4 linked regions of the Homo sapiens genome follow. The protein of the gene in region 1 interacts with the protein of each later gene in a biochemical or structural test. Each region holds a gene or a part of one and is shown in the gene's direction. Other genes may lie near its edges.

Region 1 (7,023 bases):
GCCACCGCGCCTGGCCAACATCAAGTTTTATATAAATGCAATAGATGCACACACATTAATGTATGTTGTACTGCAACACATTTGGACCCTTTTCTTAGTGTGGGTCTGCAGCATTTGAACAGTCCGACACTGCCCTCTGCTGATATACATGGGTAAAGTCTGCGCTGTAGATGAGGGAAACCATTGGTCTTGATTTTTTATTCCGAGTCTGTTTTCTCTGATGCCACTGTTCCTGAATTATGAACAGTCTGAGCTGTAAGCCTGTCACCAGAGCTAATGTCACAGTTCAGTTGTCATCCTTTTCCCAGAGAACACAAGAGTGAGGGTGCTTCGGACACTGGGCATCTCCAAAGCCTGGAATTTGATAGCTCAGGGCTGCTGTAAGATTTGTTGTTAAGTCTCTTTCTTCCTTTAGTTCTTCAGCTTAGCCCAAGCTGTGCTCAGTTTATTTTAGCGGACTTGTCTGAGTTTCCTAAGTAGACTGTACTGCAGAAAAGACGTCATTAAGAATGATAAAATGTCGACAACATTTCATGATCCTGGTTGATAAAAATAGCGCTCCTGAAAACCGAGTCTGTGGACCTTTGGAGGCAGGGATGAGTCAGCCTCTCCTAGGTTTCTTCTGACCATCAACACTTCAGATCAGTTTGTCTTATTTTCATCAAGAATCTATTTAGTTGTGATTCGAGTGGCTTTACTGGTATCTATTACTAGGTATTAGGGACTTGAAACAGACCTTTTTGAGCTGTCAGTCACTGTTGTAATCTATGTAATTGGGCCCAATGGAAGGTGCTTTAACTGCTGAAGCTTTGACCCTGTGCCAGCTCTTCCATTAGCTATCACAGTTGAATACCCGTCCAAAATCCATAAAGCTTGAAGTGACATTAACTGAACTATGCTTAAAAAAAAATCTGTTTTGACTTCTGGCAGTACCGGTGGCAGTATCTGCCATATGTTACAGTAGAATTTGCCCTTGTGATAGGAATTGTGGACAGTCTGTGGAGAGTTTGGGCCGGGCTTTGGAAATTGCCAAGGTCACCTTTGAATGTAGACATAAAAACACTATTGGAATTCTCAGATATTACCACTGGTATATCAGTGATGGAAGGAAACACATCTTACATTATTCTGCCTGTCTTGCAATTCTACAATGTCAGGATATAACATTTCTCCCACTGTGTGTTATTTTTAGACTATATTTCTATCATCCTTGAGATTGAACAACTGCCTCTCAAAATATTCAAAGATACTCGGTAGTCATTTAATAACATTTGTGTAGAATGCTGTATGGACCTTTTGCTAACAAGGGGAGAATTTTTGGCTTTGCTGGAACCTCTACAAATCATGATTAAAAACTCAGAAAGAAGAGCCATTGGCTCAAAGGTTAGATGAAGAATAAAATTCAAAATTAACCATTAACCTGAGGCTTAGCTTATATTATACAAACTACTTTTTCGGGGCATATAAACGCTAATAAGTTTAATTAATAGCTGACACGCTTTTCATGTGGGTAAGTTTCTTATTGTATTAACACCTTATAATTGATTTACATTTTAAACAGTTGTAATTCTACTTAGTTCAAAGTGATAGTTCCATATTCGGAAAGACAAGTATTAAAGAATCCTGATTATTAAATCTTGACTTTGATCATGAAGCCAGCTTTGAAATACATGTTTCATTGAGTCCTTTCAAGCTATCTGACATGCTCAAAAGTGTATATATTAAATTTGAATACATCACCCATCAAATTCTTATTCCTTAATAAAGTGTTGGTGTCTAGGTTTATTTGGCACTTCATTATTTCTTTTTGCTTCCCTAAAGTGCCTGAAGAGTGCATAATTATCAAGCAAAAATGGAAGGACAAGAATGAAATTTTTAACATTAACCCAATTTTACATTTCAAAGAGTGCAGCTAAAAATTTTTTCTTAACTATACCTTTGCCTGGTAAAAAGACTTACTCTAACAATGCTGGCTGCAAGTGACAACATAAAATTTCTGTATTCCTTTATTTTAGCGAGAATTGTTTAACAAAGAAATTTCTAATCTGTTAAAATAGTGAGTGGTTATTGTAGAAAGTGAAAAATAATAATAAGAAAAAGTTACTTTATCTACCCACAGCAAAAGGCAATTGCCAGTTTTAGTATTTTGGCATATTCTATTGCTGCCTCTTCCTATTCACTACTTTTTTTTTTTTTTGAGATGGGGTCTTACTCTGTCGTCCAGGCTGGAGTGCAGTGGCGCGATCTCGGCTCACTGCAAGCTCCACCTCCCAGGTTCACGCCATTCTCCTGCCTCAGCCTCCCAGGGTAGCTGGGACTACAGGCGCCCGCTACCATGCCCAGCTAATTTTTTGTATTTTTAGTAGAGATGGGGTTTCACTGTGTTAGCCAGAATGGTCTTGATCTCTTGACCTCGTGATCTGCCTGCCTTGGCCTCCCAAAGTGCTGGGATTACAGGCGTGAGCCACTGTGCCCAGCCCCTATTCACTACTTAAAAAAAAAAACCATATTAACAGTTGAACTCCAACATGCCAGTTCCACCATCTTGTGCTCTGGTGAAGCATTTTTTAAAGGAATAGAAAATGCCATTACTTTGTGCTAAGGGGTAGGAGTATAGATTCTTCAGAAGGAATGTAGAAAGCAGGATGCTAACAGACCCAATCCATGTTTGCAATTTACTTGATGGAGATCAGAGAAGTAGGCTAATGGTGGGGAAGCATTTCCCTGCTGATGTTCGTGCTTCCTGGTTCACAGGGGCTGGGAACCGACGAGGACTCTCTCATTGAGATCATCTGCTCCAGAACCAACCAGGAGCTGCAGGAAATTAACAGAGTCTACAAGGAAAGTGAGTAGCTTGATTTCTGTGATTCATCCTCTCAGCCCAATTTATGTGACTCTATCATGGCCACTGGGGTTAGGGTTCGGGCTAAGATGCCTGCATTAGTGATGTGCAGAAGTGCCTGCCACCTTGACTATGCAGGCAAGGTTGGCTGTGGTCCAAGTTTCTCTCCTTCACCTCCTCATTGCCTGCATTTTGATTATTACATTCCACTAGAACTTCTGTGTTAGAAGAAGGGTAGACAGGAGGGAAAGGAGAGAAAACAAAACTTGTTTTTAAACAAGATCGGATGAGGAGAAGTAGCAAGTATTATATATGGATTCCACTTATTGGGCGCTGTTCAGTGTCTGCTCAAGAGGTTGCCAACTCTGGACTGTGGATAATTGAAGAATTACAGCAAGAGACCCCTGTGGACTGGTGCACACTTAGCAGTATAGAAGGCTATGAGGGGAATAAACAATGCAACTTACATCGCTACTGCATTTCTTTTTTGTTTTACTTTTTAAAGTTATTATCATAGTTTTACATATTTTGGGGGTACATGTGATATTTTGGTACATGTATTATATATAATATGTAATTATCAAGTCAGGGTAATTGAGATATCCATCACCTCACACATTTATCTTTTTTTTTGTATCAGGAACATTACAGTTCTTCTCTAGCTACTGTATTTCAATATAGATGCTATTTTGAATATTGAAATATACTTTCATTCAAAAGCATTGTTTAATTCTTAGTAGTTTTTGCCGCTGTGCATTTTCTCAGTGGACAGTAAAGCACAATTGTGTGTGTGTGTGTGCGTGTGTAGACCTCCAATTTTTTTGATGTTCAGAACAAGTACTCACAGTCAGGAGGGCTGGGAGCCAGTATTTAAACTACACGAGAGGTCACCAATCAACGGTGAGCCTGAGGATCCCTGATTTGATCTAGCCCTGCTGCCCCCTGTTATGGATAATAACTCTGGCTCTGATTTCATGAGGGCGAAAATCATTCTAGTGAATCCTTCCTCTGTTTGGGGTTAAGGAGAATGGATATGTCCAGCTGACGTAGCTGTTCTGCTTCTCAGAGTCTTAGTGGGAAATGGGGAGATTGGGGTGGATGGTTGGCTACACAGGCAGAAAGCATAAAACCAGATGTATTTTCCTCCAAGTGTACAAGACTGATCTGGAGAAGGACATTATTTCGGACACATCTGGTGACTTCCGCAAGCTGATGGTTGCCCTGGCAAAGGTTGGTTTCCCAGTTTCTTTCTTTGCCCTTGCTTCCTCCCAAGGCAAGTCACATACCTCATTTTATACTTGGAGTGAATTAACTAAATCCCCTGTGCCTGCATCAGAAATTCAGCTGCATTTTTGAAAGTGGGTTTGCACTGTCACTGCAGAGTTGTCAATTTTGTATAATAGGATTTCTTATCCTGCAAAACCTCATGGACAAGTGGACTTTGGGAGCCAGAGAAGGGATGGGCGGCTCTCAAGTCCTGGCCTGGATTTATGTGCCAGAGCCTTGGCCGTGTGACTTAGGGAAGGTCACTTTGCCTCTATCTGTGGTCATGCAGGACCCAGTGGGAAGTGACCTTCTGGTTTCTTTTTCACTGCGTTTACTTCTCATGGAAGAATTTGCCCATATAGTCCTTTGTCTGGGGTGGAGTTGTCTTTGTGGAGCTGATTGCTAATATTAACACATTAACATGGAGGAAGGGGCATTTCCCCTGTGAATCCCTAGTTCTGGCCAGCGTGTAGCTTAATACTTATGTGCCAGGGGAGGGACGAGAGACCCTGGGAACCCTGATGACAAATGACAGATAGTGCGTCCGGCCCACTCACATCTCCATTACTGCAACAACTCCTATGCCATTCTCCCTCGCTCTCCTCTCTTCGCTACCACCTGCCCCATGTACCACCATCCACGGATCTCTGTGAAATACACTTTCACCATTTTACTCCTCTGTTCAAACCCCATTTCTGCTGCATCAAATTTAAACTCCTAACTGCTGTGAAAGGTCCTCTAAACCCTCCCTGCATCTTCTTTGCTCATCTTTCCCGCTCAGCTCTGCTCTGACAGGGCAGCTCCTTACTTACCTGAGAGCGTGCTGTGCCATCCCTTGTGTGCCAGCTGGCTCTCCCGCTCTGCTTGGCTAGCTGCATCTGACTGACCCTTGAAGTTTCAGCTTAAGCCCAGGCCCATCGTTCACACTCTTTGCTGACTCTGCCCTCTGAGAGTTCTTCCTCCGCCCGCATTTTGTGTCTTTCTAGTGCTGTGGGTTCCCGGGCTGCTTTACATTTGTTTCCACATATTCCTCCATCTGCATTGCAAGCTCTCTGTGAGAAAGAGCTAAATCTCATCAGCTTTTTGTGGGGGATGGGGACAGGGATTCTGTAAGGTGTGTAGGCCAGGACTGGGTATCAAGGGGGGGATTGTTGATGGCAAGGCACAGCCCCCACTTCCTTGCTCAATGATTTTACCACTCCTTGGCTGGTCTAGGTTTCTTTTTCTTTTTCTTTTCTTTCTTTCTTTTTTTTTTTTTTTTTTGAGACAGAGTCTCACTCTGTCACCAGGGTTGGAGTGCAGTGGCGTGATCTCAGATCACAGCAACCTGGTTCAAGCGATTCTCCTGCCTCAGCCTCCCGAGTAGCTGGGACTACAGGCATGTGCCACCACGCCTGGCTAATTTAGTAGAGACAGGGTTTCACCTTGTTAGCCAGGTTGGTCTCCATCTCCTGACCTCGTGATCTGCCCGCCTTGGCTTCCCAAAGTCCTAGGATTACAGGCGTGAGCCACCGTGCCCGGCCCCATCTATGTTTCAAAGTAAGAAAAATCTTACGTGGTTACTTATTTAGGAAATTAAATAATGGCGTACATGGACTGGGGAGAAAACATTTTCAGTTTTAAAATACACAAAGAAATGTATTTGAAGTTCTTTTTCTTTCCCCCATAGGGTAGAAGAGCAGAGGATGGCTCTGTCATTGATTATGAACTGATTGACCAAGATGCTCGGGTAAGTGCTGAGCTTTTTGCTTTGAGTTTTTGTTTTCTGGTAAGTCTCTGGATAGTCTATATAGTAATTTAACTCTGTGTGACAAATGACTCCCAAACTCTGTGGCTTAAAACAACAAACATGTATTATTTCTCAGTTTCTGTGTGTCAGGAATTGAGGAGTAGATTAGCCCAATTGTTCTGGCTCAGGGTCTTTTCTGAGGTTGCAGACAAAATGTTGCATGGCTGCAGTCACCTGAGGGCTTGACTGGGTCAAGGGAATCTGCTTCCAAGATGGTGCACTTCACATGACTGTTGGTAGGAGACCTTAGAATCGCTCCACATATGCCTCTCCATGGGGTTGTTTGAGCGTCCTCACAACATGGCAGCCGGCTTTCCCCAGAGCAAGCAATCTGCAAAGAGGAAGCCACAGTGTCTTTTATGACCTAACCTCAGGAGTCCCACCTTGCACTGCTGTCATACTCTTTTCATTAAAAGTGAGTCACTGAGTCTAGCCCACACTCAGTGGGAGGGGATTAGGCTCTTCCTTTGGAAGGGAGGAACCTCAAAGAATTTCTGGCCGTATTTTAAACCCACCATAGTCTGACAGCAATGTTTATTAGAAGACATTCTCTTATAATGCTGGTGTTACTTACAGAATCAATACGTGACTCACATATGCTCACTCAGGCTTTGCTTGTATGGAAGCATCAGTTTCTGCAGAGTGTAATGTGGCTGTGCATACCAATCAGGCAGGCAGGTGGGAAGCAGAAGAAGGTGGAGGAGACACAGCCAGGGACAGGATGGTGTACTGCTCTGTTGTGGTGGGGGAGAAAGGGAGGCCAGCAGAGACCTGTCCTTTTCTGGCTGAATAAGACTTTTGCCAGTTCTAGTTCCATTATCTCTGAGAACTATTTGTTAAGCTTATTCAGACTGCAATGAACTATATTCTTTACTCAGAGGGACAACGATTATCTCAAAGTAAGTCATAAAAGCTGCAGAAAAAAATTAATTTAAATTAATGTTAGTTTTAAAATTCAATATATTCCACACGGCACTTCTAGCAGGTAGTAGAGAAGGGTTTTAAATAAAGTAATAGAAGTTGGGTTTTGCAGTTCCTAGATGGTGGAAGATCACGGAATGAATATCTACCCTTGCATAAGCCTTTCTTCCTCTTGCCCTCCCTGCCATTGTTAGGGCTACTTGTA
Region 2 (7,884 bases), on another chromosome or scaffold:
TCTGTACTCTTAGACGAAAGAAAAGGTTGTTAGAGGCTCATCTCCAACCTCATTGCTTGGCAAAAGGAGTTAGAGTCTGCAGAGAAGCCGCAGTGCGGCAGGGAGTCTAGGATCCCAAATAACAGATCTGGGAGAATCCTGCCTCAGTACTTGGATGCGCCTCCTGCCCATGAGCCTGGTGAGCACAGATCTGTTGGCAGTAACCGGCTGTGGGTAATCACCCCCAACTGCTTCTTGGGCAGAGATGGTTGGAGGGTTGTGAGTTAGGGAGACAGAATGAAGGCCTTTTTTCGAAAACCAGCAACAGAGACATAGGCCATTAGATGCAGGATGGCTGCTAAGACAGGTAAGAGAAGACTTTAGTCACTCCTGAACTCTCATAACCAGTTCACACTGCTCCTGCTCATCCATGCATACCAGACCTGAATGAAATACCACATGCAGGTCCAAGGACACTGCGGAGACAGGCACCCTTTCTGCAAGAGGGAACTGCAGACAGAAACACACAAAGAGATGCTTTCCCACAGAGTTTACTCGTGTTAGCAGACATGCCCACATGGATGCTGTCTCACATACAGCAGACACCATCTCTTACACACTTCCTGATGGTCCAAGCCAGATGACAAGGGACTAGGGAGTGGTACGGAGGTCGCTTGAAGGTGAGTAAGGAAAGATTCAAGTAGGCAGGTGACCCTGCTCACCCCACCTTGAACCCATTGACGTGAGATCCAAAGAATGATGCTTGAATGGAAAAAACCATCACTAATCTCCTCCCTCCTGGCTATTTTGGGGGAGCAGCCTCTTGGTTTCCTGGCAAAAAGAGAAGCCATCTCCAGCTCTGTGGGAATGAATGGGGAGGGCGGCTGGGGTGAGAATTGCCTCCCGGGCAGGCTTGAGTGGAAATAACTGAGTTGTTTCCATTACTTCCATTTCCTTGCCACCACCACCCGCCTGACCTCCGCAGTGTTAAAAGAGATAAATTCTTGCAGAAAACAGGGAATCCCTTAAATATTTTTTCTTATTACAAAGTAGAAAATATAGAAAAATACAAAACCCCAAAAAGGCTAATAATTCCACCATCCAGTGATAATCACTTTTTTTTTTTTGAGATGGAGTCTCACTCTTGTTGCCCAGACGGGAGGGCAATGGCACGATCTCAGCTCACCTACAACCTCCACCTCCTGGGTTCAAGTGATTCTCCTGTCTCAGCCTCCCGAGTAGCTGGAATTACAGGCATGTGCCACCACACCCAGCTAATTTTGTATTTTTAATAGAGAAAGGGTTTCTTTCTGTTGGTCAGGAAGGTCTCGAACTCCCTACCTCAGGTGATCTGCCCGCCTCGGCCTCCCAAAGTGCTGGGATTACCGGTGTGAGCCACTGCGCCTGGCCACAGTTAGTTTTAAGGTATGGTATTTGAATCCTTTTCTTTCTTTCTATTTTTTTTTTTTTGAGATGGAGTCTCTCATACTGTTGCCTGGGCTGGAGTGCAAAGGCGCAATTTCAGCTCACTGCAACCTCCACCTCCCGGGTTCAAGTGATTCTCCTGCCTCAGCCTTCTGAGTAGCTGGGATTGCATGTGCCTGCCACCAGGCCCAGCTAATTTTTTTTTGTAGAGACGGAGTTTCACTATGTTGGCCAGGCTGGTCTCGAACTCCTGACCTCGTGAGGCGCCCGCCTCGGCCTCCCAAAGTGCTGGGATTACAGGCATGAGCCACCGCATCCGGCCCTGAATCCTTTTCGTAGATGGCTGTGGCCACGTAGGGTGGGAGTGTAATTTTTAAAAATGGAAATCTAGGTATTATGGTTCCTCCTCCTCTTTATTATGTTAGAATAAGAGGTCAGGCTGCTTTGGCGTGAAGGGTTCTGGGACTTGACGGTGTAGTTTGGTGCCCCCAGCCCAGTTCTCCCGAGTGCCTGGAGGCATTACTGACCATTCATCAGTGGCAGGGAAGCTGCTCTCTGAAGGCGAGAGTTTGCAGATGTCCTCACTTGCAGAAAGCTGAGAGAGGCATGAAAAGAAAGGAGAGAAAAGGAAAAATAGAATGGTGATGTCGAATATCACAAGAGGAAGAAACAGTCTGGAGAGAAGGCAAGGAGAGAACAGGAGAGACTCCAAATCTCTGGTCTACCAGCTGGGACTGCCGGGGGACACCATGGTCCTCACCCAGGTTACTTGTCCATGCCCTTCCCACTGGAGAGGACGAGGTAGGCAGAGAAGGGCAAGTGAGAGGGCGAAGGCCCAGGGATGGCGGGTGGGGGGGCCTGAGCATTGGGCCTCCCCTTTCTCTTCCCCAGACCCCTGGACATGCCCTTGGCGGCAAGTCCCTGCACACCTGCTCTGTGCAGCTCAGACTGGGCCAGCCTCCTCCCCTGCCGGCCCCCCATGTCCCAACCCCCCCGCCCCAGGACCAGCTTTATGGGTTGTAGTTTCCTTGGCAGGTGCTCCTTTCCTGACCTGCCTCGCTTATCAAGGCATCTACAACCCCCACCTCACCCTTATCGCTCCCTCCATCTCCTTAGACTGGAAGTCACTCCACAAGGGCGTCACCCCCAGCGAGGCAGAAAAATGTCCCACAAGTTGAGCCCTCCCCACTCCCAGTGAGAACATAATTCCACTGTATCTTTTTTTTTTTTTACTTAACTTTTCCTTTTGGCTTTTAATAAGAAAAAGATCCAAATTTTCCCCCTTTTGAAACATCAATGAACACTAGCTCCTCTTAGTTTCCTTATTTATTTTCCTTTCAATTCTTGTCCTTCTCTAAAGGTTATTTTGTCCATCCCTCAATCTTGGGAGCAGATCTCTCTTTCTTACAACAAAAGAAGGGGGCAGTCCCCACTCCTCAAGACCCCCAGAGGGAGAGTCCCAGCGTATCCTCACGCTGGTCTCTCACACCTTTACAGCCAAAAGATTCCCAAGAAGCAACAAGGTCTGGAGAGTGGTTTGGAGCTGAGATCCCAAGTTCATGGCCAGTTACAGTCTCGCCACTAGCCATGGGACTTGGGGCCAGCACACCCAAGAATTCTCACAGACGGAATTCTTCCTTGTTCTCATTTACCTGATAGGTCTATTGAGTGAATGCAATTCAATAATATTGATGTACCTCTTTGAAAACAATGAGAACAGAATTGAACAATGAGAACACTTGGACACAGGAAGGGGAACATCACACACCAGGACCTGTCGTGGGGTTGGGGGAGGGGGGAGGGATACATTAGGAGATATACCTAATGTAAATGACAGTTAATGGGTGCAGCACACCAACATGGCACATGTATACATATGTAACAAACCTGCATATTGTGCACATGTACCCTAGAACTTAAAGTATAATAATAAAAAAAATGAGAACATAAATACAAGCTATCATATACAGTAGTCACCTTTTATCCTCAGGGGATACATTCCAAGACGCCCCAGTGGATGCCAGGAACCTTAGATAGCACCAAACCCTGTATATACTATCTTTTTTCCTACACGTACATACATACATACATACATACATACATACATACATACATACATACATATGATGAAGTTTAATTTATACATTAGGCACAGTGAAGAGTTTAGGCCGGGCATAGTGACTCACGCCTGTAATCCCAGCACTTCAGGAGGCCGAGGCAAGCAGATCACCTGAGGTCAGGAGTTCGAGACTAGCCTGGCCAACATGGTAAAACCCTGTCTCTACTAAAAATACAAAAATTAGCCAGGCGTGGTGGTGGGCACCTGTAATCCCAGCTACTAGGGAGGCTGCGGCAGGAGAATAACTTGAACCTGGAAGGTGGATGTTGCAGTGAGCCAAGATCACACCATTGCTCTCCAGCCTGGGCAACGAAAGTGAAACTCTGTCTCAAAAAAAAAAAAAAAAGAGTTTAACAACAATAAAATGAAAATTATAATAATATAAAGTTATGTGAATGTTCTCTTTCTCTCTGTCTCTCAAAATATGTTATAGTACTGTACTCACCTATTTTCCAACTGTGGCTGACCTTAGGTAACTGAACCATCAGAGAGTGAAACTGTGGATAAGGGAAACTACTTAATATATAAAATATAATATAAAATATATAAAATAGTGCAACATTACTTATTCCTCCTGGTGTTTCATTCCTGGAAAGAGTCCCAAACATGGAATCACGATTTATTTGTCGTCTACCTTTGCTCAGTTTCTGCTGTTCAACCTCCATAATAACTCGAGGCCCCTGGGGGCTCCTCTGACCTGCGTCCCCAGGTACCAGAGCCTGCTCGGCGACGCTCCAGGAAGCTGGCCGGTCACGGTCATGAGGACTTCTCACAGAGAGGGATTGGCCTGGGAAGTGGGGGTCAGAAACCCTCCTTTGAGGTACAGGGTTGAGGACAGAGATGACCACAAGACACATAAATGGGAAGCTCTGAGAAGCAGCCCGGGGGTCTCTTGAGCCCTCTTGTGGAAGGAGGATCGGCAGTGATTGAGTACTTGTGACACATGCTTTACAGATGCTCCCGTGAGACGGCATAGCCGTTACCCCAATTTCACAGGTTAGGAACTGAGGCTCAGAAAGCTCACCTAACTGTAAGGGATAAGAGTCAGGATTTGAACCAGGCTCTGCCTGACTCTTGAGCTGGAAGTCTTTATTTCCTCCTCTCCCTCATGCAACTAACTGTGCACCTTGTTTGTGGACCCACCTTCCATCCCTTTTCTTTTTCCAAATTCCTCTGCCCCACCTCTTAGCTTCTCGGGTCTCAGCCATCCCAGCCCACAGTTAGGAACCTTCCTTCCCCTCCTCCTTTTCTTCCCCAGGGTGGTTCTGTGGCTGTGGGGCTCAGCTCTGCAAAGAGCTCCTCCCCCTCCAGGAAAAGCACTTCTCCCCAGGCAGGGCGGTCAGTCCCCTCAGCGCACCTGCATGCACACACACCACCTCACAACCACACACTGCATGCACACACATACACCACAGCCACACACTGTGCATACACGCACACCCCACAACCCACATACTGCATGCACACACACACACCTACAAGCTGCATGCTGCATACACAAGTCATACAGGAGATAAACTCAGAGTCCCAGCCCCAAATAGACCCCATCTCTTGCTCAGTTGCTGTCATCCTAGACCTGTTTCTTTCGCCACATTTCTATAATCTGCCAGTGTCTGCAAGGAGAAGACATGGGGGGTTTTCTACCTAAGGCAGAAGGGCCCGGGAGCCAACTCCAGAAACTTCTGCCCTCCTTTCTGGTCAGAGAACAAGACTGGGACCAGCACCTGGACAAGCTTCATATGCTGCAGCAGAAGAGGTAGGCTTCCTAGAACGATCCGTGGCCCTACCGCCGTGATCCTCAGACCCTCTGACCCACCTGGGCCTGCTTTCCGAATACAGCACCCTAGAAGTGTATTGTCAGTGCCAGTCACTCAGACATACCCTTTCCTTCCAGCCCACCTAATTACAGAATCCCAGCTGGCCCCTTTTAGTGGCGGTGGAGGATGTGGCTTTGGGCCACACAGGAAAATCTTGAGGGTAGACCTAAGGACAGAGGCAGAATGACAGCCAAGGGGGAGTGAAAGGACCAAAAAGGACCAGAGGGAAGAAGCCAGGTTGTGTGGGATGGGGAGGGAAGGCAGAAGCAGGCTGCTGAAGAAGGGATGCACTCCTGTGGGTGGTGGAAGCACGATAAGGAAACGCCATTCATTTGAATGAAAGTGGACTGTGTGGGAAAGGGGAGGAGCGCTTTGTTTGGTGTAACACTGGGTGCTGACCAGTGGAGGAGGGCAGCTCAGGTGACACTGGAGGGCTCTGAGTTCAGTCCATCTGCCTTTTATTGAGTCTACTGTGTGCAGAGGGGTGTTAGATCCCAATGACATAAAGATTGAATGAGACTTGTGCCTGCTCCTGGAGAGCTCTTAGTTCGGGCAGGGCTAGCACACCTGCAGGTAAATCATTTCATGGCTTAGCCCTGAGGTCCAGTCCCAGGAAGAGCAGCTGGGGCAGGGACGAATCCTGTGGGCTGCTTCTTCCTCCAAGTGTTTTGGGGCTTGCCTCCCACCCAACAGCTGCCTGAGGGGTGAGGTTGTTGAGCAGACATTAGCAGTCACAAAGGGCTCCCCTGTACTCCAGAAGATTCCTGTGCTTTGTTCAATGCCCTGCTGTCCTCATCTTCAAGTTCTTAATAATTTTGAACAAGGGGTCCTGCATTTGCAGTTTACACTGGGCCTGGTCCCAAGTACCTCTGAGCCCTCATACTGTCAAGCCCTCTGCTTCCTCATCTCCCCACCCAATACCTCCAGTGGAATCTCACCTTCCTGCTTTAGAGTGGGACCCCTGGGTCTCTGAGAAAGTGAGCTTCCAGCCCCAACTTGGACCCTCTGCAGAGGGGCAGTGGGGATAGAGGGCCAGGGAGGCAAGGACTTTGTTTGTGCAGTGGCCTCAGGATGGGGGTGAATTTGCAATCTCAGCCCTGACCACTCTAGGCTGGTCAGGGACACCAGGCTCCCTGGGACTGATTCCCTGGGTGAGACGGGGCAGGGAACTGACTCCTCACAAAGGCCCCTCCTAGGAGCACTGCCTTAACAGGTAAAACCAGGCCCCACCTTTAGATTAAAAGCTTCTTCTTTAAATGAAAACACTTTGGCTGGGCGTGGTGGCTCACACCTGTAATCCCAGCACTTTGGGAGGCCGAGATGGGTGGATCACCTGAGGTCAGGAGTTCGAGAGCAGCCTGGCCAACATGCTGAAACCCCGTCTCTACCAAAAATAAAAAAACTAGTCAGGCATGGTGGTGGGCACCTGTAGTCCCAGCTACTCGGGAGGCTGAGGCAGGAGAATCACTTGAACCCAGGAGGCGGAAGTTGCAGTGAGCCGAGATCGCACCACTGCACTCCAGTCTGGGCAATAGAGTGAGACTTCGTCTCAAAAAAAATAAATAAATAAAATAAAAACACTTTTTCGCCCTGGCTCCTGGGGCTATTGGAAGAGAGGGATTTGGAGGTGGGGACCTCAGAGGAGCCACTCATCGGCCTGTCCTTTCTGTTCTTCCCCCTACACCATGTGCTTGCCTTTGGGGCCAATACACATATGTCTAGTTGGAGAGGCTCCAGCTTTATCTCTTTCTGGGTTCAAATCTGGGTATGGTAGAAGCAAAGATTAACAGAGGTCCTGTAGAATGAGTATCTCAACCTGTTTTGCCTTGAGACACCCACATAAACAAGCTGTTTAGACCTTTGCATCTAAGGGTATAATGCAGAAGAAAGAGGCACCCTGTAACTCACCCCACAACTCTCCACCCCCTGCAGGGACCTGTATCTAAATAACCTGAGGATGCTGGGCGCAATGTAATCCCAGCACTTTGGGAGGCCAAGGCAGGCGGATTGCCTGAGCTCAGGAGTTCGAGATCAGCCTGGCCAACATGGCAAAACCCCATCTCTACTAAAAATACAAAAAATTAGCTGGGCGTGGTGGTGCGTGCCTGTAATCCCAGCTACTCGGGAGACTGAGGCACAAGAATTGCTTGAACCTGGGAGGCAGAGGCTGCGGTAAGCTGAGATTGTACCACTGCACTCCAGCCTAGGCAACAGAGCAAGACTCTGTCTCAAAAAAAAAAAAAAAAAAAAAAATAGCCTGAGGGAGTAGTCAGAACTTTAGTGCCTCACAAATTTCACAAATTTCAAAATGCCTAGGAAAGATCTAGCAGTCGATCCATTCCTCCTCCCTCTGTGTTTTGGTCTCCCAAACTCCCCTTGGTTAAAGACAGTAGATTCAGCAGGCCCAGGAGCAGGGGGACCGCAGATGGAAGTGCCCTCTGTCCCGCTCTCCAACTATCCAGGATCTGAGACAGTTACTCAGGTTAGATGAATTCAGCCAAGCCTAGGGTCCTCTTCTTAGAGACTCTCAGACCACTCTTTCCA
Region 3 (7,023 bases), on another chromosome or scaffold:
ACCAGGTTATCCTGGCCTCAGTGACCTCAGAAGCAGCAAGGGTCTGACTTACAGTGGGCACGTGCTACTTCTTTAATTAATTGAAAGTAAAGTTGTTGTTTTTTAAGTTGGCATTCTGGCTTGAAAACAGAAAGATGGCATGAAAATATTAATGGGAGTACTTCAACTATTTTCATTATGCCAAAAATACTTGGAGAAGTAGCACATTTTCTGCAAAGTCTAAAATGTCAATTTTCTTTGGGGCCAAAAATGCATCATTTCTGTGTGGTAATACTTATGTGGATAAAAAACTCTGGTAGACAGTTATGCATATATATATTTTTTGGTGAATTACAATGAGAAAAAGTCCAGGTGCAATGGCTCACATCTGTAACTCCAGCACTTTAGGAGGCGGATCCAGGAGGATGGCTTTAGCCCAGGAGTTCAAGACCAGCATGGGCAACATAGTGAGACACCTCTGCCTCCCCCACCCCACCCCGCCTCTACAAAAAAATTTAAAAATTAGCTGGGTGTGGTGGTGTGCACCTGTAGTCCCAGCTACTTGGGAGGTTGACGCAGGAGGACTGCTTGAGCCTGGGAGGCAGAGGTTGCAGTGAGCCAAGACAGCACCATTGGACTCCAGCCTGGGTGACAGAGACCCTCGAAAAAAAAAAAGAAAAAGAAAAGAAAAGAAAAAATTAGGCTGGGCACGGTGGCTCATGCCTGTAACCCCAGCACTTTGGGAGACCGAGGTGGGTGGATCACTTGAGATCAGGAGTTCGAGACCAGCCTGTCCAATATGGTGAAACCCCGTCCCTACCAAAAATACAAAAATTAGCCGGGCATGGTATCGGGCACCTGTAATCCCAGCTACTCGGGAGGCTGAGGCAGGAGAATCACTTGAACCCAGGAGGTGGAGGTTGCAGTGAGCCGAGATTGTGCCACTTCACTCCAGCCTGGGCGACAGAGTGAGACTTTGTTTCAAAAATAATAATAATAAATAAATAATAAATAAATAAATCATATGAGAAGATACTCAATGGCACTCAGAAAAGAAATGCAAATTTATTTTATTTTATTTTGAGATGGAGTCTTGCTCTGTCGCCCAGGCTGGAGTGCAGTGGTACAATCTCGGCTCACTGCAACCCCCACTTCCTGGGTTCAAGCAATACTCCTGCCTCAGCCTCCTGAGTAGCTGGGATTACAGGCACCTGCCACCATGCCTGGCTCATTTTTGTATTTTTAGTAGAGATAGGGTTTCACCATGTTGGCCAGGCTGGTCTCGAACTCCTGAGCTCAAGTGATTCACCCACCTCGGCCACCCAAAGTGCTGGGATTACCAGCATCAGTCACCGTGTTTGGCCAGTATTCATTATCTTGTTGTCTTCCAGTTGTGTCTCTTCAATAAGGGAGTATGCAATGGAGTCTATAGAAAGCAAGTGAGGGAGTTTTCTCAGTAGGTGCAAGGGTAGTGAGGCATTTCATTTTGAGTCATACTCTGATGAGGCTGGCCTGTCTTTTCTCATAGTGATCTGCAGAGATGAAAAAACGCAGATGATATACCAGCAACATCAGTCATGGCTGCGCCCTGTGCTCAGAAGCAACCGGGTGGAATATTGCTGGTGCAACAGTGGCAGGGCACAGTGCCACTCAGTGCCTGTCAAAAGTATGTACTGAGGCTGGGAGGTGGTGCATGCCTGTGATCCCAGCACTTTAGGAGGCCAAGGTGGGAGGGTCGCTGGAGCCCGGGAGTTCAAGACCAATCTGGGCAAACATAGCAAGTCCCCTGTCTCTACAAAAAATAAAAAAATTAGCCAGACCTGGTATGTAGTCCCAACTACTTGGGAGGTTGAGGCAGAAGGATCACTTGAGCCCAGGAGTTGGAGGCTGCAGTAATCTACGATTGTGCCACTGCATTTCAACCTCAGTGACAGGGCAAGCCCTCACCTCTAAAACAAAACAAAACAACACAAACAAAAACAAAAACACAGAAAAGCCCAGTACAAATCGACTTCAAACTGAGACTTCGAGTTCAGGGGTCCAGTCATGAACCCTGTCTTTCATGGTCCCCGGAAAGTTCAAATCTTCAAAAGGAGCCTCCAGGCCTGTTCGGCCTTAGGCGGAGGTGAAGGTACAAGCAGAAAAGGGAGCAAGACCAAGTGACCTTGGGCAAATGCCCGCTTGCCTCAGTTTCCTCATCTATAAAGAGGTGGGAATAACAGTACACACTTCATGGTTTGCTGTGAGGATTAAATTAGCTAATTTTTGTAGACTGTACAACAGCGCCTGGCACATAGAGCACATTCTTAATATTTTAACTCACATCATCCTTGGAGCTGCTTTGAAAATACAGGGGACCCTTGAACAACACTTGTCTGACCTGCAGGGTCCACTTATGTATGGATTTTTTTCAACCAAAGGCAGGATGAAAACAGTATTTGTAGGATGCAGAACTGGTATACGCGTGTTCCACGCTGCAGGACTTGAGTGTGTGTGGATTGTGGTAGACAGGGCTCCTGGAACCATGGCCTGAGCACACAGAAGGAGGCTGTCATTAGGGGCTTCCTTTTTTATACTTGACAGGTTGCAGCGAGCCAAGGTGTTTCAACGGGGGCACCTGCCAGCAGGCCCTGTACTTCTCAGATTTCGTGTGCCAGTGCCCCGAAGGATTTGCTGGGAAGTGCTGTGAAATAGGTGAGTAGGTGAGAGCACGTGAAACGAGCTGAAATCCCACCTCTCCAGTCTCCCCCGCCCCCGGAAGGAAAGGCAGGGTGCGATGGCAGGGCCAGGGGTGGGGGCCAGGGACAGGGAAGGCGCTTCTGCCATGGGTCAGGAAGCACAGTGCCACACAGCAAGCAGAGCCTAGGTGTGACCCTGAATCCAGGCTGGCACCCTTGCCACCCAGCCTGTGGCTTCCGAGCCAGCCTGCATCAGGCCTGGGGGAGGACGGGGCAGAGAGGGGAGCCTCCTGAGGGCTGAATGAAAGGGGACTCCCATGTGAGGCATCCATGCCCTGCTCTCTGTCAGATACCAGGGCCACGTGCTACGAGGACCAGGGCATCAGCTACAGGGGCACGTGGAGCACAGCGGAGAGTGGCGCCGAGTGCACCAACTGGAACAGCAGCGCGTTGGCCCAGAAGCCCTACAGCGGGCGGAGGCCAGACGCCATCAGGCTGGGCCTGGGGAACCACAACTACTGCAGGTGAGGGCACATCCCCAAGGAGGGATTCCCCCTGTGAGAAGCTGCTACAGCTGGGGAAAGATTCTGTCAGATCCGTCAGGGTTCTCCCAAGAAACATAACCAATACAGGATGGATAGATGGATAGATGATAGACAGATAATAGATGATAGGTGATAGATGATAGATTGATAGATGATAGATGATAGGTGATAGATTAGATAAATAGATGATACATACATGATAGATAGATGATAAATAGACGGTAGATGGATGACAGATAGACAGATGATAGGTGATAGATAGATGATAGATTGATAGATGATTGATAGATAAATAGATGATAGATACATAGATGATAGATGGTAGATAGATGATAGATGGATAGATGATAGATGATAGGTGGTAGATGATAGACAGATGATTAGAAAGATAGATGATAGATACATAGATGATAGACACATAGATGATAGACAGATTGACAGATGATAGATGATTGATAGATGATTAAATAGATGATACATAGATGATAATGATAAATAGATGATAGATGATAGATGATAGGTGATAGATAGATTGATAGATGATAGAAGATTGATAGATGATAGATACATAGGTGATAGTAGATGTAAGATGATAGATGATAGATAGATAGATGATAGACAGATTGATAGATGATAGAGAGATAGAGATAGAGAAAGAGGAGAGAGAAATAGAGAGAGAGAGAGAATGTGTGTGAACCCAAAGTATCTGAGACAGGTCTCAATCGATTTAGAAAGTTGATTTTGCCAAGGTTAAGGACACCCCCGTGACACAGCCTCAGGAGGTCCTGAGGACATGTGCCCAAGGTTGTCAGGGCACAGCTTGCCTTTAGACGTTTTAGGGAGTCATGAGACATCAATCAACATGTGTGAGATGTACATCGGTTTGGTCGGGAAAGTTGGGATAACTCGAAGCAAGGGCTTCCAGGCCATAGGTAGATAAGAGACAAAAGGCTGTATTCTGAGTCCTTGATCAGCTTTTCACTGAACACACAATTGAGTCTGGCTCAGTTCATCTGCATTTTTACATAAAAAATAGGGCAGAGGAAGCAATCAGATACGCATTTGTCTCAGATGAGCAGAGGGATGATTTTCTGTCCTGCACCTGGGAAGATAAGCTATCCATTTACAATGCCAAGGTGAAAGTCAACAGAACTGTTTTAGGGTAAAGATCTTTAGGCCTGCAAGGAATGTCCTTGTAGAGAATTAAAAAAAAAAAAAAAAAACTTTGCAGCTATCTTATTGAGGAATAAATGAGAGGCAGGTTTGCCTGACGTAGTTCCCGGCTTGACATTTCCCTTGGCTCATGACGTTGGGGTCCTGAGATTTATTTTCCTTTCACACTAGATAGATAGACATTTATGTTAAGGAACTGGCTGACAGGATCGTGGGGGCTGGCAAGTCCGAAACATCTTGGTAAGCCAGGCTGGAAGTGCAGGCAGAAGCTGAGGCTGCTCTCTTAAGGCAGAATTTCTTATTCAGGAAACCTCATATTTGCTCTTAAGGCCTTTAAGTGATTGGACGAGGCCCAACTACATTATCTAGGACAATTTCCTTTTCTAAAGTCAACTGGCTGTAGATATTAACCACATCTATAAAACACTTTCACAACTCCTAGATGAATGTTTGGTTAACTGACTGGGTGCCACAGCCTGGCCAAGTTGACATATAAGACTATTCCAGTCCACACCTTGTCAATTTGGCACCCATGTGCATCTCCTTAAACCATCCTTCACCTCCAAGTAAACACAGGAACAAAATCATACTCCTGCCTAACATGATAGAACTACCAGTGTACAACCAAAAACGCACTCCCGGCTGGGCGTGGTGGCTCACGCCTGTAATCCCAGCACTTTGGGAAGCCAAGGCAGGTGGATCACCTGAGGTCAGGAGTTCAAGACCAGCCTGGCCAACATGGTGAAACCCTGTCTCTACTAAAAATACAAAAATTAGCCAGGCATGGTGGCAGGCACCTGTAATCCCAGCTACTCGGGAAGCTGAGGCTGAAGAATTGCCCAAATCCAGGAAACGGAGGTTGCAGTGAGAGGAGATGCGCCGCTGCACTCCAGCCTGGGATAAACAGCGAGACTCTGTCAAAAAAAAAAGCACCCCCCATTCCTCCAGAAAAGGATACCAAAGTCCTTGGGTCCTAAAGGAGAGGCTTCACCTTTGACCTACCCTGGCCCTTCCCTTGGCTGATTTTTCAGAAACCCAGATCGAGACTCAAAGCCCTGGTGCTACGTCTTTAAGGCGGGGAAGTACAGCTCAGAGTTCTGCAGCACCCCTGCCTGCTCTGAGGGTAAGTGGCAGCCACCCCGCCTTTCCCTGAATGTCCCTGGGGGAGGAAAGTCCAGGAGGACAGGCCGATAGCCCTCCTGCACCTGAGGGGAGAAAGGGGGAGGCCAGGAGTGAGTCATTTTGGTTGCAGAGGGAAGAAAGACAGGACTTAGGTCTGTGCCTGGGCTTGGCCTCTGACTGGCTATTTGTCTGACCTGGAGCTGATCTCCTCACACTCTGACCCTCAATTTCCTCCTCTATGGAGGAGAGGATGGGGCTGAATCAGTGGTTTTCAGTCCTTTTGAGAATGAATGGAGATTCTCCCTTTTTTGATTAATGGGTGAATGGGGCTTTGTCTCTCTTTCGCTCCCTCTCAAACTTTTTAATGCAAAAAAAAAAAAAAAAAAACTTCCAAGATTGAAAAAATATATATTAAGTTACAAGACCAGGCACAGTGGCTTATGCCTATAAACCCAGCACTCTGGGAGGCTGAGGCGGGCGGCTCACCTGAGGTCAGGAGTTTGAGACCAGCCTGGCCAACATGGTGAAACCCTGTCTCTACTAAAAATACAAAAATTAGCCGGATACGGTGGCAGGCACCTGTAATCCCAGCTACTCAGGAGGCTGAGGCAGGAGAATTGCTTGAACCTGGGAGATGGAGGTTGCAGTGAGCCGAGATCATGCCACTGCACTCCAGCCTGGGTGATAGAACAAAAAACTGTTTCAAAAAAAAGAAAAAAATGAAATGCTAAGTTACAGAAAGGTACTATGAATTCAGTGGTGCTTATACAAATCATTACGTTACTTATCACATTTATCACAGCACTATGAAAGATTTTTTTTAAGTTCTAAATATATATAGGGCCAGGTGCAGTGGCTCGTGTCTATAATCCCAGCACTTTGGGAGGCTGAGGCGGGAGAACTGCTTGAGCCCAGGAGTTTGAGACCAGCCTGGGCAACAAAGTGAGACTCCATCTCTACAAAAAATACAAAAATTAGTCAGGTGTGGTGGCTTGTGCCTATGGTCCCAGCTGCTTGGGAGGCTCAGGTGGGAGGATCGCTTGAGCCCAGGAGGTTGAGGCCACAGTGAGCAATGATTGTGCCACTGCACTCCAGCCTGGGTGACAGTGAGATCCTGCCTCAAAATAAATACATAAATATGTGTGTGGGTGTGTGTATATATATATGTAATACACATATATTAAATTTATATATGATATATATAAACACGCACCAGCTATATGCATTCAGCACCCAGGTCCACGGGTGATGCCTGTGACTCTGAAGACTTTACAGTCACTCTACAATATCCTCCCCATCCCCCATGGTCTGGTCTAAATGAGGACTCGCAGATCTAGATAATCTTGAAAATCCCTTCCATTTATGGTATTTATGTATAGAGGTATGCTTTGTCAGTTTCAGGTCGGGAGAAAAAAATGGAAAAATGGGGGAAATAAATGAAAACAGGCAGCACTCCACGGCTCATACCCTCCTCCTTCCCAAGCCCATCATCAGATCCTCAGGACACTGGCAGACACAGTCCGAGA
Region 4 (7,023 bases), on another chromosome or scaffold:
CGGCATGTCTTGTGCTCATTTCCTTGTTAGGGGAGTGTGGCCCAGCCAAAGTGGCCTTTGCAGGGATTGGGGAGGGAGTTGTGGGATCAGAGCTTGTAATGAAGACCTTCCTTTATCCAGAGTTATGTTTACCGAGGACCTGAAGCTGCCTGCAAGCTTCGATGCACGGGAACAATGGCCACAGTGTCCCACCATCAAAGAGATCAGAGACCAGGGCTCCTGTGGCTCCTGCTGGGTAAGGCCCTGCTGGCTGGCGGGGAAGCGCTGGAGAGAAAGTGGGAGCAACACTGGAGAGTCTTGGGGGATTCGGGGTGGGGACAACTCTGACAAGGCAAGTTATAGAAACTTTCTGAGTCCCAGTTTCCATCAGTACAAAAATCACAATCCCTCTGGCCATGAATGATGGCGAGGATTAGGTGGAGTGGCGGGCAGAGCATCCAGCAGATTGCAAGTCCACGTGTACAGGTGGCGAAGCAGCTCCCTTTCCCTGACATGCTGGCCCGTCCGCAAATACCAGGAGCTCTCACTGCTACTCTGCTTCAAGAAAGCATCCCTTTAGTGTCAGTGAGCTGTCTTAATTTTGTCATTTAATTGTGGTAAAATACACGTAACAGAAATGTAATAATCTTAGCAATCTTCTTTTGTTTTCTTTTTCTTTCTTTTTTTTTTTTTTTTTTTTTTGGAGATGGAGTCTTGCTCTGTCACCCAGGCTGGAGTGCAGTGGTGGGATATTGGCTCACTGCAACCTCTGCCTCCTGGGTTCAAGCAATTCTCCTGCCTCAGTCTCCCCAGTAGCTAAGACTACAGGCATGTGCCACCACGCCCAGCTAATTTTTGTATTTTTAGTAGAGATGGGGTTTTGCCATGTTGGACAGCCTGGTCTCAAACGCCTCACCTGTTGATCTGCCTTCCTCGGCCTCGCAAAATGCTGGGATTACAGGCGTGAGCCACCGTGCCCAGCAACTATTTTCAAGTGTACAGTTCTGTAGCATTAAGTACATTCACAGTGTTGCTCAGCCACCACCACCATCTGTCCCCCGAACTCTTTTTCAGCTCGCAAGACAGAAACTCTGTCCCCATTAACACCAATATTGTAGCCCCTGGTAAGCCCCACTCTACTTTCTGTCTCTATGAATTTGACTCCTAGGGACCTCATACAAGTGGATCACAACAGTATTTATTTTCTGGGTGAGCTGTGTTTTTTGTTAAGAAAAAAACACAGCCAGGTACGGTAGCTCACGCCTGTAATCTCAACACTTTGGGAGGCTGAGGCAGGCGGATCACCTGAGGTCAGGAGTTTGAGACCAACCTGGCCAACATGGTGAAACCCTGTCTCTACTAAAAAGACAAAACTTAGCTGGGCCTGGTGGCAGGCACCTATAATCCCAGCTACTATAGAGGCTGAGGCAGGAGAATTGCTTGAACCCAGGAGGCGTAGGTTGCAGTGAGCTGAGATTGCGCCACTGCATTCCAGCCTGGGCAACAAAAGTGAAACTCCGCCTCCAGGAAAAAAAAAAAAAACCACACACACACATACAAACTAATACTACACATTTTGCAGATTTCAGAAATGAACCCAGTTTCCAGGCAGAGGTTCACGGGGGTGCTTCTCTTGCTTTAAAAGCTGAGTTGGGCAAATCGTTGAGGCAGGAGAGTGGGGCAAGTGGCTCATCACGCCTCTAATCCCAGCACTTTGGGAGGCCAAGGTGGGCAAATCACTTGAACCCGGGAGTTCAAGACCAGTCTGGCCAACGTAGCAAGACCCCATTTCTACCAAAGAAAATAAAAGCTGAGTTTGAGCCCCAGGAGCGTCCCCTGGTGTTGAGAGATCAGTTGCCTACAAGGTCTGAGGTGCCCCTGTGGCCCTTTGAGGGGACTGCTGCAGAGGGCCCAGCCCGGACATGGCAGCCTCACCCGGTGGGGCTCGTTCCTGCAGGCCTTCGGGGCTGTGGAAGCCATCTCTGACCGGATCTGCATCCACACCAATGCGCACGTCAGCGTGGAGGTGTCGGCGGAGGACCTGCTCACATGCTGTGGCAGCATGTGTGGGGACGGGTGAGTCAGGCTGTGCTTCCACAGCGGGTTTAGTGCTGAGAGACCCTGGGCCCCAGCTTCTCAGTGGAGGGGACTTTGAGGACTTCCTGGGACTGCTGCGAGTCAGAAGTGTTTCGGGGAGACTCCGAGAGTCTGGCAGGCAGGGCCTGGCAAGGCTGCTGCTTCCTGGGAGGTGCCTGAACCAAGGCTGGCCCGGCAGAGCTGTCTGAGGGGTGGCATCCCAGCAAAACAGTCAGTTTCAGAAAATGTGGTGGAATGTCTGGCCCCTGGTCTGGTTTGTGTCATCGCATGTTCCTTTTTCCTGCTTGGGGAACCAGTTTGGGGCATTTCCTTATGTGTAGTTAGCGGGGATGGCTCCACCTTAACAACAAGGTGGTGGCACAGAACTTTCTGCTCCAGCTGCCTGCAGCCTCGCCTTGGTTCCGCAGTAGCGGTGTTCACTGGCGGCTGCAGATCCGAAATGCCTGAGGGCTTAAAAAAATGCATGGGCTTCTCCCCTAACTAGTTAAATGGGAATCACTGGCGATTCTCATTTCAGAGAACTGGTGGTGTTTTTAAGTACCTTAGGGAAGTTTAGCGTCTGCTCAGTTGAGAATCAGTGTTCTACCCGGAAGGGCACTCGTAGCCTGGTCTGGTATGGACATGAACAGGAGAGCCTCCTGTCTTCTCCCGGATCTTTGTGGGCAGGGGTGGGGCTGGCGGTTATTCCCTGCAAGCTGTGCTTATCTAGGGAGCGTCCCTTGGAGGGTTTGGGGTCTGGGAGGTCTGCTCGCACCACTTGCTGCAGCTGGGGGTGGGTCCACGAGTGGCCTCGGGCACTTGGGTAGCACACAGTGGTCTGGAGAGCTGGTGGTGCTTCTCTCAGAGGTTTTCATTAGAGGCTGTCTTTTCAGCTGTAATGGTGGCTATCCTGCTGAAGCTTGGAACTTCTGGACAAGAAAAGGCCTGGTTTCTGGTGGCCTCTATGAATCCCATGTAGGTAAGTGTGTCCCCTTGGCCACTTTCTGGCCAGATGGATTGTTTGAGCAATTAACCATCATGGCTTTATTTGCCTTTATAAACTGGGGGTTGAGACAGAGGGGCTGCTGAGAGGTGCTAGCCAGGTGCACAGGCCTCTGGCAGGACCTGCCTGGCGTCCATGCTGCAGGCACGAGGCTTGCCTTGCCCCAGGTCTTCTCCGTGGGGGCTGTAGGTTGACTCCGCTTTCTCCCGCGTCCCATCAGGGTGCAGACCGTACTCCATCCCTCCCTGTGAGCACCACGTCAACGGCTCCCGGCCCCCATGCACGGGGGAGGGAGATACCCCCAAGTGTAGCAAGATCTGTGAGCCTGGCTACAGCCCGACCTACAAACAGGACAAGCACTACGGTAAGGGGCCTGGGGCCTGGCCACGGCGCACGTGGAGGCTGGGGAGCTGCTGCATCCCTCCTCACGCTGCAGCGAAGAGGTCAGGGCTGAGGAGCCTTGGGGTCCCGGAACTCTAGGATAGAGGAGGGGGAGTGATGCCCTCTTGCCAGGAGAAGCAGCACACTCTCCACTTTCTGCCTGTTCCACCCTGAACTCAGCCTCAGCCCTTCCAAACTGGAAGGGACCAAAGCCCTCCTTTTACAAGGGAGTGGCGTGTCCTGGAGTCTTGAGGTATCCTGGCCTCTTCCGGGGCCTCGTGCTCATTGCTCCGTTCTCCCATTTCTGAGCTTCCAGCCCCAGCCCTGTCCTTAGTTCTTCAGGGGAGCCTTCCTTGAGCTCCCCTGGCAGGGCAAGTCCCCTTAGATGCAGTCTTCCCCTGGAGGCCACCAGAAATCAGTGACTGGCTGACCGTGGCGTGCCACGAGGCACGGTCACTGCCCTCCCCAACCCCGAGCTCGGTTCATTTTCCAGGATACAATTCCTACAGCGTCTCCAATAGCGAGAAGGACATCATGGCCGAGATCTACAAAAACGGCCCCGTGGAGGGAGCTTTCTCTGTGTATTCGGACTTCCTGCTCTACAAGTCAGGTGCGTGCTGATGGCTGATGGCAATAGAGGGTGGGGGTCGGGAGGGGAGCCTGGGTGCCAGGATGGTTCATGTTGACCAATAGGGCTGGATTGGGCAGGCAGGTGAGGGGCTGGGGAAGAGGGCTGTGTGGGGCCTTCCATATAGGCTCACTCCTCTGTGGACCAGCCTGGCACCTGACTGTCTTTGTCCAGGTGTTGTGCCAACACACACAATTCCAGAGGCCTCTCCCAGAGCCTCTGGGCTAGTTCCTTCCCATCCATTAGCGTCCAGCTCATACATGTTCTCTGTGGGAACGCCCCCCTCCCTGGTGGCTGGCCACGCCTGCCCTCGCCTTCCTGGCTTTGCATTGCTTTACCAGCATGTTTCTGTTATAATGGCAGGCCGTTCGTGTTTGCACTGGCTGACACATTTTCTTCATCTTTCTCTTTGCAAAGGCCTAGATCGTGCCTCACACCAGTGGATGAACACACAGGGAGGACCTTGCCCTGGGTAGTGCCATAGGGACTCCAACCAAGGAATCTGGACAGTCCCCATCCCCAAGTCCTGTCTTAGAAATCCCTTGCTCCAGATGAACAGTCTTTGCTGACTGCATCTATCCCATTAATATTTTGCTAGATTGGAAACTTGTAAAACAACAGTTTGACAAAGGAAGATGATTCTGGCAAGAAAAAGTTTCTGTGAAGATGGCACTTCTTAGCATAGTCCTCGCCCTTATTATTAAAAGATGCATTTCCACTTTGACAGTGATTTCCCCACCCGAGAGCCTGGTTGGGCAGCCCTGAGCCCCTTAGCCAGTATCTTTCCCATCAGCTAGCATTAGCTGCCACCAGTCCTCCCTTCTCCTCCCTCACCTCTTCAGGGTGTACCTGGAGCAGCTATTAAAACTCTTTAAGCCGTGTAACGCTTTTGACAAACCCTTACTTACATGGAATCCCAGTATAAAGAACAGATGAATCAGTCATCTAGCATTAAATGTTTTATCAATTAGAATGTATTAGAAATTCTATTTTTAAAGCCAACAAGCACATTTTGTAGGAATCTATTTCAATATTTACTCAACAACTTTGAGTGTGTTGGGCCTTCAAAAATATATTTAATTCCCCAGTATTGTGGGACCCCCCCTGGAGCCTCCTGGTGGAGCAGCAGGTTCCCTCTGGAAGCTGTTTCTCCTTCCCGGAGCATGACCAGCTGAGTGTGGGGGGTGCTGTGGGGCGTGGGACAGTGGCCCGGTCTCGGTCTCAGCCAGTTCTTCCCTTTTCAGGAGTGTACCAACACGTCACCGGAGAGATGATGGGTGGCCATGCCATCCGCATCCTGGGCTGGGGAGTGGAGAATGGCACACCCTACTGGCTGGTTGCCAACTCCTGGAACACTGACTGGGGTGACAATGGTGAGTGGCTGCCCCCTTCCTGCCAAGAACAGTGAATTGTGAGCCACACCCCGTGGCCATCTCGGCTTTCTCTGTTCTACCCACCGCACAGCCTTAAACCCTGGACCTACGGCCAGGCTGTGAGCTCCTCCTAAGTGCCAGGCAGTCAGGAGTTCCCTTTTGCTGTGAGGGCAGACTCTGAGCAGCTTCAGAGCCAACGCCTGCAACAGTTCCCACAGCATCGCGCCAGATCCTGTGATGGGAAGGGTGACCGGGCAGGGGGCTTGCCCGTGGAGGTGTGCCCCACGGCTCCAGAAGCCTTGTGGTGTTGAGGACTGTGCTAGTGGGCCAACAGCAGGAGTGGCCAGGGATGAGTGACTTAAGGTCTTTTAAGGATGAGTCTGACTATATTGGTTGACCCTTGTCACACTTTAAAAGCACCTTACTTTTTATTCCCAGGCTTCTTTAAAATACTCAGAGGACAGGATCACTGTGGAATCGAATCAGAAGTGGTGGCTGGAATTCCACGCACCGATCAGTACTGGGAAAAGATCTAATCTGCCGTGGGCCTGTCGTGCCAGTCCTGGGGGCGAGATCGGGGTAGAAATGCATTTTATTCTTTAAGTTCACGTAAGATACAAGTTTCAGACAGGGTCTGAAGGACTGGATTGGCCAAACATCAGACCTGTCTTCCAAGGAGACCAAGTCCTGGCTACATCCCAGCCTGTGGTTACAGTGCAGACAGGCCATGTGAGCCACCGCTGCCAGCACAGAGCGTCCTTCCCCCTGTAGACTAGTGCCGTAGGGAGTACCTGCTGCCCCAGCTGACTGTGGCCCCCTCCGTGATCCATCCATCTCCAGGGAGCAAGACAGAGACGCAGGAATGGAAAGCGGAGTTCCTAACAGGATGAAAGTTCCCCCATCAGTTCCCCCAGTACCTCCAAGCAAGTAGCTTTCCACATTTGTCACAGAAATCAGAGGAGAGACGGTGTTGGGAGCCCTTTGGAGAACGCCAGTCTCCCAGGCCCCCTGCATCTATCGAGTTTGCAATGTCACAACCTCTCTGATCTTGTGCTCAGCATGATTCTTTAATAGAAGTTTTATTTTTTCGTGCACTCTGCTAATCATGTGGGTGAGCCAGTGGAACAGCGGGAGACCTGTGCTAGTTTTACAGATTGCCTCCTTATGACGCGGCTCAAAAGGAAACCAAGTGGTCAGGAGTTGTTTCTGACCCACTGATCTCTACTACCACAAGGAAAATAGTTTAGGAGAAACCAGCTTTTACTGTTTTTGAAAAATTACAGCTTCACCCTGTCAAGTTAACAAGGAATGCCTGTGCCAATAAAAGTTTTCTCCAACTTGAAGTCTACTCTGATGGGATCTCAGATCCTTTGTCACTGCCTATAGACTTGTAGCTGCTGTCTCTCTTTGTCCCTGCAGAGAATCACGTCCTGGAACTGCATGTTCTTGCGACTCTTGGGACTTCATCTTAACTTCTCGCTGCCCCAGCCATGTTTTCAACCATGGCATCCCTCCCCCAATTAGTTCCCTGTCATCCTCGTCAACCTTCTCTGTAAGTGCCTGGTAAGCTTGCCCTTGCTTAA

Evidence for each region.
Region 2: the proteins of ANXA2 (region 1) and TRPV5 form a complex in vitro, tested with the Homo sapiens proteins (one study listed by BioGRID).
Region 3: the proteins of ANXA2 (region 1) and PLAT form a complex in vitro, tested with the Homo sapiens proteins (one study listed by BioGRID).
Region 4: the proteins of ANXA2 (region 1) and CTSB form a complex in vitro, tested with the Homo sapiens proteins (one study listed by BioGRID).

What each region holds. Positions count from the first base shown.
Region 1 is NC_000015.10:60,352,968-60,359,990, reverse strand, and holds part of ANXA2 (annexin A2), read left to right. Parts: intron 1-2,754; coding exon 2,755-2,845; intron 2,846-3,992; coding exon 3,993-4,072; intron 4,073-5,777; coding exon 5,778-5,837; intron 5,838-7,023. UniProt on the Homo sapiens protein: Calcium-regulated membrane-binding protein whose affinity for calcium is greatly enhanced by anionic phospholipids. It binds two calcium ions with high affinity. May be involved in heat-stress response.
Region 2 is NC_000007.14:142,930,727-142,938,610, reverse strand, and holds the start of TRPV5 (transient receptor potential cation channel subfamily V member 5), read left to right. Parts: upstream 1-4,864; 5' UTR 4,865-5,151; coding exon 5,152-5,279; intron 5,280-7,884. UniProt on the Homo sapiens protein: Constitutively active calcium selective cation channel thought to be involved in Ca(2+) reabsorption in kidney and intestine. Required for normal Ca(2+) reabsorption in the kidney distal convoluted tubules.
Region 3 is NC_000008.11:42,183,556-42,190,578, reverse strand, and holds part of PLAT (tissue-type plasminogen activator isoform 1 preproprotein), read left to right. Parts: intron 1-1,507; coding exon 1,508-1,645; intron 1,646-2,562; coding exon 2,563-2,673; intron 2,674-3,006; coding exon 3,007-3,181; intron 3,182-5,406; coding exon 5,407-5,498; intron 5,499-7,023. UniProt on the Homo sapiens protein: Converts the abundant, but inactive, zymogen plasminogen to plasmin by hydrolyzing a single Arg-Val bond in plasminogen.
Region 4 is NC_000008.11:11,844,078-11,851,100, reverse strand, and holds part of CTSB (cathepsin B isoform 1 preproprotein), read left to right. Parts: intron 1-120; coding exon 121-235; intron 236-1,936; coding exon 1,937-2,055; intron 2,056-2,948; coding exon 2,949-3,034; intron 3,035-3,278; coding exon 3,279-3,422; intron 3,423-3,932; coding exon 3,933-4,049; intron 4,050-5,311; coding exon 5,312-5,440; intron 5,441-5,878; coding exon 5,879-5,976; 3' UTR 5,977-7,023. UniProt on the Homo sapiens protein: Thiol protease which is believed to participate in intracellular degradation and turnover of proteins. Cleaves matrix extracellular phosphoglycoprotein MEPE. Involved in the solubilization of cross-linked TG/thyroglobulin in the thyroid follicle lumen.